Regions from separate parts of the Homo sapiens genome. Here region 2 is linked to region 1. The links come from fine-mapping of genetic effects on gene expression. Tissue or cell type: whole blood. Region 1 holds a variant in brackets; the other region holds the start of a gene. All regions are shown on one strand. Distances are between the middles of the regions.

Evidence for each region. PIP is the estimated chance that this variant, and not a neighbour inherited with it, causes the effect.
Region 2: SAMHD1 starts here. The variant in region 1 is fine-mapped to the expression of SAMHD1 in whole blood (INTERVAL, PIP 0.97).

Annotation. Positions count from the first base shown.
Region 1 is chr20:37,550,119-37,552,801 of GRCh38, reverse strand. No RefSeq gene overlaps it. Among named protein-coding and RNA genes, the nearest start is that of LINC01746, 20 kb to the left of the region's middle. The variant G/T (reference allele first, on the strand shown) is at 1,551.
Region 2 is chr20:36,950,575-36,953,257 of GRCh38, reverse strand. SAMHD1 (SAM and HD domain containing deoxynucleoside triphosphate triphosphohydrolase 1) reads left to right here and starts at 1,550. Exons shown (of 16, transcript NM_015474.4): 1 at 1,550-1,822. The coding sequence starts at 1,615. RefSeq lists a silencer at 1,836-2,055.

The sequences.
Region 1 (2,683 bases):
CAGAATTACCTTGATACCAAAACCAGACAAGGACAAAACAAGAAAATAAAACCACAGCCAATATCTCTATGAACACAGATGCAAAAATCCTCAATGAAATACTAGCAATCAAATCCACCAACACATTAAAAACATCACTCACCATGATCAAGTGGGTTTCATTCCAGAGATACAAGGATGAGTCAACATATGCAAATCGAAAGACATGACACATCACATTAACAGATTCAAGAACAAAAGCCATGTGATCATTTTAATAGATGCTGAAAAAGCATTTGATAAAATTCAGCATCCCTTTATAACAAAAACTCAGCAGTTTTTGTAGAAGGAACATACCTCAAAACAATAAAGGCTATGTATAAAAAACTCAAAGCTAACTTTATACTGAACAGGGAAAATGTGAAAGTATTTCCCCTAAGATCTGGAACAAGGCAGAGATTCTCACTTTAGGTCTCAGCCAGAGCAGTTAGGCAAGAGAAATAAATTAAGGGCATCCAAATTGGAAAGAAAGAAGTCAAATTTTCCTTGTTTGCAGACAACACAATCTTATATTTAGAAAAATGTAAAGATACCAGATATTTTTAGAACTGATAAGGAAATTCAGTAAAGTTGCAGGATACAAAATCAACATACGAGAATCAGTAGCATTTACATATGCCAACAACAAACAATCTGAAAAAAAATTAAGAAAGTGATTCTATTTACAATAGCCACAAAAAATACCTAGGAATAAATTTAACCAAAGAAGTAAAAGATTTTTACAATGAAAACTATAAAACACTGATGAAAGAAATTGAAGAGGAAGGGCTGGCTACAGTGCCTGTAATCCCAGCATTTTGGGAAGCCAAGGCAGGAGGATCACTGGAGCCCAGGAGATCAAGGTCAGCCTGGGCAACATAGGGAGATACCATCTCTACAAAAAATAAACACATAAATTAGCTGGGCATGGTGGCACATGCCTGCGGTCCCAGCTACTCATGAGGCTGAGGTAGGAGGATCGCTGGAGCCTGGGAGGTTGAAGCTGCAGTGAGCCATGATCATGCCACCACTGCACTTCAGCCTAAGCAACAGAGTGAGACCCTGTCTCAAAAAAAAAAAAAAAGAAAGAGAGAAGGAAAGAAAGAAAGAAAGAAAGAGAAAGAAAGAAAAAAATAGTTGAAGAGTACACACATACACAAAAAAAAGGAAAGATTATCACATGTTCATGGATTGGAAGAATTAATATTGTTAAAATATTCATACTACCAAAAGCAATCTACAGATTCAATGTAATCCCCATCAAAATTCCAATGACATTTTTCACAGATATAAGAGAAAACAATACTAAAATGTGTAAAGGGGCTAGGCATGGTGGCTTATGCCCATAATCCCAGCACTTTGGGAGACGAAGGTGGGTGGATCACCTGAGGTCAGGAGTTCAAGACCAGGCTGACCAACATGGAGAAACCCCATCTCTACTAAAAATACAAAATTAGCTGGGTGTGGTGTTGCATGCCTGTAATCCTAGCTACTCGGGAGGTTGAAGCAGGAGAATCGCTTGAACCCGGGAG[G/T]CGGAGGTTGCGGTGACCCAAGATCACACCATTGCCCTCCAGCCTGGGCAACAAGAGCGAAACTCCATCTTTAAAAAAAAAAAAAAAAAAGTATAAGGAACCACAAAAGACCCCAAATAACCAAAGAAATCCTGAGCAAAAAAACCAGTTGGTAGTATCACACTAGCTGACTTCAAAATATACTACAAAGTTAACCAAAACAGCGTGGTACTGGCATAAAAACAGACACTTAGACCAGTGGAACAGAATAGAGAACCCAGAAATAAATCCATGCCTTTACAGCCAACTCATTTTTGACAAAGGCACCAAAAGCATACGTTGGAGAAATATTAATAATAGTCTCTTCATTAAATAGTGCTGGGAACACTGAATATTCATATGCTGAAGAATGAAACTAGACAACTTTATATATTTTACCATATATAAAAATCAAATAGAAATAGAGTAAAGGCTTAAATAAAAGACCTGAAACTATGAAACTATTAGAAGAAAACATTGGCCCCGTCCGGGAGGTGGGGGGCAGCCCCCCCCCGGCCAGCCGCCCCGTCTGGGAAGTGAGGAGCCCCTCTGCCCGGCCGCCACCCCATCTGGGAGGTGCACCTAACAGCTCATTGAGAGCGGGCCATGATGACGATGGCGGTTTTGTCGAATAGAAAGGGGGGAAATGTGGGGAAAAGAAAGAGAGATCAGATTGTTACTGTGTCTGTGTAGAAAGAAGTAGACATAGGAGACTCCATTTTGTTCTGTACTAAGAAAAATTCTTCTGCCTTGGGATGCTGTTAATCTATAACCTTACCCCCAACCCCCTGCTCTCTGAAACATGTGCTGTGTCCTCTAAGGGTTAAATGGATTAAGGGCGGTGCAAGATGTGCTTTGTTAAACAGATGCTTGAAGGCACCATACTCGTTAAGAGTCATTACCACTCCCTAATCGCAAGTTCCCAGGGACACAAACACTGCGGAAGGCGGCAGGGCCCTCTGCCTAGGAAAACCAGAGACCTTTGTTCACATGTTTATCTGCTGACCTTCCCTCCACTATTGTCCTATGACCCTGCCAAATCCCCCTCTCTGAGAAACACCCAAGAATGATCAATAAATACTAAAAAAATTAAAAAAAAAAAAAAAAAGCATTGG
Region 2 (2,683 bases), 600 kb after region 1:
GGCAAGTTATCAAGACCATGGACTTTGGAACCAAGTTACATCTCTTGGGTTTGAATACAGGCTTCATCATTTCCTAGCTGTAAGACCTTGGGCAGCTGGGTACGGCTGTGTAATCCCAGCACTTTGGGAGGCTGAGGTGTGGGAATCACCTGAGGTCAGGAGTTCAAGACCAGCCTGGCCAACATGGTGAAATCCTGTCTCTACTAAAAATACAAAAATTAGCCAGGTGTGGTGGCAGGCGCCTGTAGTCCCAGCTACTTGGGAGTCTGAGGCATGAGAATCACTTGAACCTGGGAGGCAGAGGTTGCAGTGAGCTGAGATCACGCCACTGCACTCCAGCTTGGGAAACAGAGCAAGACTCCGTCTCAAAAAAAAAAAAGAAGACCTGCGGCAAATTACTTTTTCCTACATCCTAAGGTAATTGTGATAATTAAGTGAAGTAATATGTGTAGAGCCCTTAGAACTTTACAATATTTGTAAAACCCTTAGAAGTTATAAAAATTATTTAATATTTAAATAATTTAATGAATGTACTTAATTCATTTAGTATTATGTATAAATATAAAATTATTTTATATTTGTAAAGCCCTTAGAACCGTGCCTGGCACACAGTAAAGCTCTGTTTGCAAATAATATTTTGGCTCACCAGTAGACCACTAGTTCATACTGCTTGATGATAAGCTATTCCGCCTCATTCGTCCTTGACCCCCTAAACAGGTCTATGCCTTGGTTGCTGGGAAGGTGTGTTGGCTTTATTAACAGTAATAGTGATATGTCCTTTTACCAGGCAATTGCATGGACCAGTATTTATAGGGAAGTTTGAGCCCTGCCGCAGAGGGGTTAAGTGATGGGAAAATGCCTGCCATTTTCACATGCTGTTACAACCAGGCAGTAAAAGTCCTCAGAAGTTAAATTTTAAGTAATCAGACTGGCCACTTTCCTTCCTCTGGGAATGCAGTTGGGATGGAGGGCTCTGTCTCTAGTTGGAAAGAAGTCTGAAGTCCCCTCCTGTGTGGACACCAGACAACAGGTATCCCAGGGCCCTCTAGTTGACCAGCAATACTGTGGAATGAAGACACCCTCAAGTCACATTTGAAATCATTCCGGGTTCTTCCAGTTCAGCACCTTGACTGTTTTCCTCTTCACTGGGAAGGTGCTGGCAGCCTGACGGCCTTTTAGGCTTCTTTTAAGTTTGGGGCATCTGAAACCCGGCCAAGGTGCGGCGGGTAGTGTACTCATTCGAAGGAGAATACCCCCAATTCACTAGACGAGCCCCTAATTGGGGGTGCGGTGCCGGGCGCGCTCTTTCCTCCCCCTTTCCACCAGCACTGCCCTCAGTTCTGCTTCTAGCCACGCCCTTTCGCGTTCACGTCCAGCGCCCTGGCGGGATTGATTTGAGGACGACTGGACTGCCATTGCGCCTGCGCAGGGAGCCCAAGGCAAGAGCCGCTAGGCTGCCCTGCCCGAAGGGCTCAACTGTCAGTGAGCCTGCGCAGGAGGCCAATAGGCTGCCAATACTCCTTGGACTCCCCGCCAGGGCCCTGCTGTCAGTGCGCCTGCGCGCGGGTCCGGCGCCGAGGTTCTTGACTGCTGTGCCGGACGCCAGGTGTAGCCATGCAGCGAGCCGATTCCGAGCAGCCCTCCAAGCGTCCCCGTTGCGATGACAGCCCGAGAACCCCCTCAAACACCCCTTCCGCAGAGGCAGACTGGTCCCCGGGCCTGGAACTCCATCCCGACTACAAGACATGGGGTCCGGAGCAGGTGTGCTCCTTCCTCAGGCGCGGTGGCTTTGAAGAGCCGGTGCTGCTGAAGAACATCCGAGGTAGCGGCTCCGGAGGGGCTGAGGGGCGAAGGGCGGCGACCTGGGGCGCGGGCCAGGCGCCCTGAGGGAGGGGGCCCCACGAGAGGACCGAGGCCGAGGAGCGAGCCCTGCGGCGGGAGGCACCCGGGAGGGCGGACCTGCGCTGGGGGCGCCGAGGAAAGGAAGACCCGAGGCGGGGGAGGGAGCCCTGCGGCGGGGGTTCCCAGGAGGGCCTGCGGCATGGGGCTCCCGGGACTGACTCCCCGAGGCGGAGGAAGAAGACATGGGGTCGCCTGGGATAGGCGATTCGTAGGATGGGAGCAGGCTCCCGGGATTGAGGACCTGGGAGGGGCAGTCGTAGATTGGGATCTCACTCTCGTGGGTTTCTTCACTAACTTGCCACCCCGGCGCGGGACAAGCGAGACTCGGGTCCCTTTTTTTTAGTTAGAAGGAGATTTTTCCCCAGACCTTGGTGGGCGGCTTGCTGTCATCCAGGCTCGCGGGACCCCTCCGCGCTAACCGCAGCTCCTTGAACACTTGCCACATCAGAGGATGTTCTGGGGCTTTTAGGTTTCGGTTTCCTCCCTGAATTGAGGCTTTTCCTGAAGGGGAAGGAACTGGCTTGGTTAATCTCTGAATTCCCATCACCTTCCTTGGCATCCCAGCAGCGCCCGATAGGCGTGTGTTGACTGCACTTGCAGAACATGGTAAGGAACATGTTTTGCTCTTTAAAAGCAGGTTCCCCTCCAAAATCTGAACCTTGGGGTTGTTCAGTTGACCACTGAATCCCCAGCATGCCACAGTTTGGCCACATCCCCTGGAGAAGTGTTTAGGTTGAGTTTTAATCATATTTTACTGATTCGTATCCAAGCATCCATCCTT